Linked DNA regions of Homo sapiens. The protein of the gene in region 2 purifies or fractionates together with the protein of the main gene of each other region. This does not show direct contact. Each region holds a gene or a part of one and is shown on either strand. Other genes may lie near its edges.

Region 1 (3,500 bases), about 63 Mb from region 2:
CCATTGCACTCCAGCCTGGGCAACAAAAGCGAAACTCCATCTCAAAAAAAAAAAAAAAAGGAAATTACAGTTGTGACATTGTGACATCTAGTAACATTTATGTAATTTTTGGTGTATTGTGGATTTTGTTGTAGTGACATTTTAGTTGTGGTACCTTTCTTTCCTGTCAGTGTTACTTAACAAGAAAAGAGATAAAACCTGAAAACCATATGAAAGAGTGTTTTATGTGTCTTAGTTTTGTGTTTATGGTAATAGACTTCAAACTTCCCTGAGGTTGGGACTTTGGTTACGGTACAGTTTTGCCCTTAATATAATCAGCTCCCACATGATCGGCAATTGCCCTCATAAATTCATTCGGGACACAATTGTTAGCCTCTGCCTTGGAGGATGTGCAGCAAGTTAGATATCACTGTGACGCCAGAGGACCCTGGGGGACAGCAGACAGCTAAAATCCAACAACCTAGTACCGGTGGCATTCCCAGGCTGACCCGAGCGTGAGATCAGCTTGGGCTTGTCAAATGCAGGTTCCTAGGATCCTCCTAGGCCTGTAGGAGCCTGAGGGTTGGAGGCACAAGCTGGAAATTGTGAATTTTCAACATTTTCAAAATTTCCTTTCAGATTTTCTATCTTTTCTACTAAAAGAATATTTTAGTGAACACCCAAATACTCTCTGCCCAGATTCACCAGATGCCTACATTTTTTTCCACATTTTTCTTTTTCTTACTTTTTTTGTATATATTTTATATATACTTTTTTTGTTGAAATATTTGAAAGGTGCAGACGTAACAGTACTTCACCTTCAAGTACTTTACATATATCTCCTAAGAATAAAGGTATTCTTCTATATAATCTCATTACCATTATCACTCCCTAAAAATTAACAAAATAATATCTAAGATATAGTCTATATTTAAATTTCCCCCCATTGTACCATAAATGACTGTGATAGCCTTTCTGAGATTTTTTTTTTGCTTCTGTTTTTTTGAGACAGGGTTTCAATCTGTTGTCCATGCTGGAATGCAGTGGCATGATCTTAGTTCACTGCAGCCTCAAAATCCTGGACTCAGGTGATCCTCCTGCCTCAGGCTCCTGAGTAGCTGGGACTACAGGTGTGTGCCACCACAGCCAGCTAATTAAAAAATTTTTTTTTGTTTAGTTTAAAATCTAGGACCCAGTCAAGATTTACATGTTGCATTTGGTTTTATGCCTCTAAATTTCTGGAGCCATAGTAGCCTGATTTTTTTTTGTTTGTTTGATTGTTTCTCATAACATTTACCTATATATGTGTGTGTGTGTATATACATATTTACGTATATTCATGTATATGTGTGTGTGTGTGTGTGTATATATATATATATAAAAGCCCAGAGCAGTTTTCCTATAAATGTCCCACATTCTGGATTTGTCTGATTGTTTCCTTATGATTAAGTTCAGTTAAACATTTTTATAACAATGCTTGCTAATTGGTGTCGTTGGGAACATGTAGTGTCTGGGCTGGTCCCACTTGACACTGTTCAGTGTGACCCCTGGAAGGAATGGCCTCTATGCTGCTTCATTTTGAAGGTACATTTTTGCAGTATGCAATCTGTGGAGTGATTCTTGCCACCTGTGCGAATATCTTGTTCTCCAGCCAGTGCATTTCATGTCCATTGACGATCCTTGCCTGGACCGATTTTTCTGTTGGGGATTGCAGTTAGTGATTTTCTAATTTTGTAAATCTTTTGATAGTTATTAACTGGTGGTGTTTTGAAAAGAACTTTCCCTCCCTTTTTCTTCTCTCACTGTATTAGTTTCCCGTGGCTGCTGTAACAAATTACTCCAAATTAGGTGCCTTTGAAACAAGAGATATTTATTATTTCTAAATCTGGTGGCCAGAAGTCTGAAACCAAGGTGTTGGCAGGGCTGAGCTCCCTCGGAATGCTCCTCTGTGGCTCCAGGGTTTCTTGTCTTTTGCCTGCACTGCTCCAGCCTCTGCGGTGACATGGCCTCCTCCTTTTCTGTCTGCTAAATCTCTCCTGGGTGTTTCTTATAAGAACATTTGTCACTAGATTTAGAGCCCAACTGGATAATCCGGGATGATCTTTTTGTCTTGAGATCTTTAATTACAGCTAAAAAGACCTTTTTTCCAAGTAAGATAACAATCACAAATTCTAGGAATTGGAATGTGGACATATTTTAGGGGGCACCGTTAAACTCATGGTGATCTTTCTTTAATCACTGTGGACCCGTAGCTTCTTTTAGTCTTTGAGCACTTCCTTAATGTCTAGATGTTTCAGGCTCATTTTCTTTTTCTACCCCAAACCTGGAATCAGCCTTCTCTCCAAGGAGCCAGAATTGAATGGAATCATTGGCCACTTGCTTGGTGTCTAGAGAGTGGGAGAATTGGTTGGTAGTATGGGAAAAGCACACACACGTGGTATCAGAAGTGTTCTGTAGGTAGAAACAGGGTTTAAGACTTGGGCATCTTTATTTTCAACAATTTTCCCATTTTCCACCATAGTTCCTAAGAAAATGGACAAGGTAAAGTAGTCAAGGTAAAGTGCTGAGTACCATGAGAGAAATGAGATCTGGGACTTGGAGAGAATGGGATGCCCTTAAGACCTGGGGCATTGAGTTGGCATTTAGCAGAAGGATACAATTTGGGCAGTGGAGTTGAAGGTGAAAGTGATGGAATGAGCAGAGGCTGGAGTGACACAATGCCAGGAGCAGGAGTCTTTGTGGCCCATAAAGGCAGAATGTGGAAGTCTGACCTGACATAAACTTGATTTAATGACATGAGTAAGCCCTCCATAAGAATTTGTGCAGCATGAGAGAGATTTTGATGAACATGCCTGAAGTGTTCAGACATTAGGGCAGGGCAAAGTATAATCAGTTTTGCATTTTGGGGTTGGCCCGTGTGGCCTGAAATGTGCTTTGTGGTGTGCATGTCTCCTGAGCTGCCTACCTTTTGTAGATATGTGACTGGATTCTAGTCCTGGTATATGATATGTATGGTACTTCTGTACAGGCCAGTGCTGTGATCTGAATGTTTGTGTCCCCTGGAATTCACATGTTGGAACCTAATCCTTGAAGTGATGGCATTAAGAGGTGGGGTATTTGGGAGGTGATTAGGTCAGGAGGCAGAGCCCTCATGCATGGGATAGTGTCTTTGTAACAGAGGCCCAAGGGAGTTCATTCCTCCCTTCCACCATGTGAGGATACAGCAAGAAGGCACCGTCTGTGAATAGGAAGTGAGCCCTCACCGCCAGTGTCTTGATCTTGCACTTCCCAACCTTCATAACTGTGAGAAACAAATTCCTGTTTATTAGCCACCCACTGTGTAGTATATTTGTGATAGCAGCCTGAACATGGACTAAGACAGCTGAGAAGTCAAGAACATGTCTGATGTGAAGTTGGAGAGCTTTCACAAATAGATATGTTGAATAGGTGAGGCCAGTTACCAGATTCTTCATGTGTACTGAACCCACATTAATGTCTACTGCAAATTTCTTGTCTTGCTT
Region 2 (3,500 bases):
ATTACATAATGACTGATGGGACCATACATCTTACCAAGGTTGCACAGGAGGTTTTGGGGGCAAACCTTTCATTGGAAGCAATATCCATCGTCCAGATCAAGAACTCCTTTGGGGTCAGATGGACACAGTGCTCCGTCTGGGGAAGCCACTCACCAGGGTCCATGCAGTGGAGAATTTTCAGTATCTGTGTAAGCCAAATCCGCACACAAAAAAGAGAAATAAATACTCAGGGAGATGTCTCTAGATGTTACATGATAATCAATTGTATCAACAAGAGGTCTACCTTTCAAAAGGCTCCCACTGACTTCTTATTTCCCCCATAATACCTTTGGGAGACTGAGGCAGAGTGATGCAATGACTAACCAGAGGGCCTCTAGTGACTTGGGATGGGAGCCAGATGCCCTGATTTTAGGCCAGTGCCCTTTCCTTTTGATTATGCTTCCCAGGTGGCCAACTGCCCTGAAATAGCCATGTCAGCAAAGACTACCTCTGACACACTCTACAGTGAATTTTTAATGATCTGTTTCCTAAACATCCCAAAGTGGTTTGCTCTGTCTTTGGTTAATCTCTGCCATCAATACTCCTATCATCAAAAGCTTTTCTTGGTGCCCTACCAGGTATGACGCCATGCCAACCACCATAAAAAGAGAGTCCTTATCCACTGGCTGCCGAATCTACTTCCTATTGCCCCTGGAGAGCCTAAACCCAATCTTGCCTTCATGATCCTACCATTCCAGTGGCTCACAAAAGAATGTGGGGAGTGTAAAGGGCCAGTCAGTACGTTGGAGACTTTACCTTGCAGAAGCATTCTGGGTGATTTTCCTTCATGGCCAACAATAAGAACTTCTCTCCCATGTTGCACAGCAAGGGTGGCACGCCCTTCTCTCCAAGTCCAGAGGCTGCTGCTAAGAACTTTTCCAAGAGGGCTTCCAGTGTTAGTGAGCGCACTTCAGGGAAGGCAGATTCTAACAGCTGAGAGAAAGAGATGGGGACATTCGTCTCCCGCTCTCCACTCTTGGCTGCCGCGGCCCACACTGCAGCAATGGCTAGTCTGGTGAGGCTCTGGAGGTACTGGGGCAGGCCTGGCACCTTGAAGGCCCAAGGGAATCCCGTTATCAGCTCTGATCCTGAGATAATCCCTCTGACTTCCTCCCAGAAGCCAAGACTCTCCAGAACTAAGAAGCAAAAAAAGCAAAAGGGAAAGAGATAATCACTTTAAATTTCCACAAAAGGACATGAAAGAATGAAGACTGAATCCACTGCGTGAGGCCATCAGATGTCTCCCATAAGCAGATTTCAAACACTGTCATAAGTGAGTGGCCCTCTAAGGTTCAGACTTCTAGTCCACAACAATTTCCATTTAGGTAATGTATAATTTTTCCAACAGGGGCACAAAGGCATTACTATTAGAAAATGCGTTCCTGGCACCCCTCCTCAACATTCAATAAATACGAACTCAGTGACCTCTTATCACCGAGCCTCAAAGCTGACCATGAGAAGAGGACATCTAGTATAAACTTCCTTCAGGGGTGAAGCTCCCCTCTGTAACACCCTTTCCCAGAAGCTCTTGGTTGAACCCTACAGTACCCTGGAGCTCATGAGACAGCTTATTCCATTGTTAGTAGATCTAATTGTCAAAAAGTTCTTTTTGTGTTTCTACTCACTGGCCTAATGCTACATTTTGAGGCTCCCAATGACAGCTCTTTAGACATTTGATTACAATTCTTGTGTCCCCTCTGTCTTCTCCAGATGAAACATTCCTACTTCCTTCCTCAAATGATGGGGTCACTGTCTCTCATTATTCTAGCTGCTTTCCTGTGGACATGCCTCACCCTCTCTTAAAGGATGGCCAATAGGCTGGATCACAAATCTCCTGCATGGTTTGACCCGCAGGACTATTACTTTCTCTGTTCTGAACTGGAGTTGCATCACACTGTTGACTCATATGGAGCACAAAGTCAACTGAAACCACAGCCCTTCTTTTTTGACGTGGTCTACTGATGGTGGTGAGTCATCTTTCTCCCACTTTGTACTCAGTACTTAAGCCAAGATGTGTTTTCTTTGTTTATTTTAAGCCCAAGTATATCCCTGTTAAATTTTATCCTCCTGTTAAGTTTTATGGTCTACCTTTCATTTGCCGAGATCTTTTCATATTCTCAGTTCTGATTAAAAAAATAAAAAAACCAAAAACTTATTGCCTGCTTACTATGTGCTAGGAGCTAAATAAGATCACTGCCCTTAAGGAGTTTATAGTCAGTCTAGTTTGAGAAAGAGAAATGCATGAACACATAATTCCAATATAGTGGTACAAATGATAACCTAGGCCTCAAAGAGGAAGACAGGTGACAATGTGTTAGCACCACCAAAGGCAGGGGAACCAGCTGAGCAAAGGCTCAACAAAGGCATGAAACAGAACGGACCATGTGGGGAACTACAGGCCATCCCATAACACTGGAGCATAAAATTTGAGGTGGGAAAGGGCAGGAGATGAGGCTAGGGAAGAAATGTGGCTAGAGTACAGAAAGCCTCCTAGACAATGTGAAGCAGCTAGTTCTGTATGCAACGGAATGCCACTGGGGGGTTATTTTAAGCAGTAAGGTCAGGGGCCCATTTTCACTGAAGTGCTCTTATCGTTGAGGAGGCAATATTAGAGGCAGGGAGACCAGTTACAACACTACTGCACCGTAGTCCAGGAGAGAAATAAATGACGAGGGCCTTAAGTTCAGAAGGAATCAGGAGAAGGTGGGTTTAAGAAACGCTGAAGGTCTGAAGCCAAGGTGATCATTTAAAAAGGCAAAAAAGAAAGAAAAAAAAACACTGAAGGGATAAAACTGGCAGGACTAGGGAATGAGGGTGCGGACTAGGGTAGGAGTCTCGGGTACCTCCCAGCACCCAGTTCTTCACACATGTTCATCATCTAATAGAAATTGGGTAAACCAGCTGGGCGTGGTGGCTCATGCCTGTAATCCCAACATTTTGGGAGCCCAAGGTGGGAGGACTGCTTGAGCCCAGGAGTTTGAGACCAGCCTGGACAACACTGTGAAAATCTATTTCTACAAAAAATAAAAAGTCAGCTGGGTGGGGGATCACTTGAGCCCAGGAGGTTGAGGATGCAGTGAGCCAGGATGCTGACACTGCATTCCAGCCTGGGCGACAAAGTGAGACCCTATCTCAAAAACGCATACAAAGTAGTTGGCAAACTTCAATTTCACAGGAATGCCTAAATGCCCAAAATCAAATAATTACTAAAAATGTGGGCAAGCTGGAGGGTGGAGGCCTTTGGTGAGCAGGCTCCCTGCTGGCCCTTGCCTCAAACGCTCTTCCAGGCTCTCACTAATTCATTAACTAGCCCTCTTCGGTTTGAGTCATCCCCCACTTATGAATCCTCTTAATTGTATCATTCTGTCCATGAAGTTTTATCTACAAGAACTTATGACAGACTTCACCAAATGCCTTGCCAAAATTTAGATATTATATTCATAGCATTCTCTGATAAATCC

What was found. The genes of interacting proteins can lie anywhere in the genome.
Region 1: the proteins of THADA (region 2) and UXS1 purify together in Homo sapiens (co-immunoprecipitation; one large-scale study listed by IntAct). This does not show direct contact.

The regions. Positions count from the first base shown.
Region 1 is NC_000002.12:106,184,302-106,187,801, reverse strand, and holds part of UXS1 (UDP-glucuronic acid decarboxylase 1), read left to right. Parts: intron 1-3,500. UniProt on the Homo sapiens protein: Catalyzes the NAD-dependent decarboxylation of UDP-glucuronic acid to UDP-xylose. Necessary for the biosynthesis of the core tetrasaccharide in glycosaminoglycan biosynthesis.
Region 2 is NC_000002.12:43,292,039-43,295,538, forward strand, and holds part of THADA (tRNA (32-2'-O)-methyltransferase regulator THADA), read right to left. Parts: intron 1,176-3,500; coding exon 796-1,175; intron 185-795; coding exon 66-184; intron 1-65. UniProt on the Homo sapiens protein: Together with methyltransferase FTSJ1, methylates the 2'-O-ribose of nucleotides at position 32 of the anticodon loop of substrate tRNAs.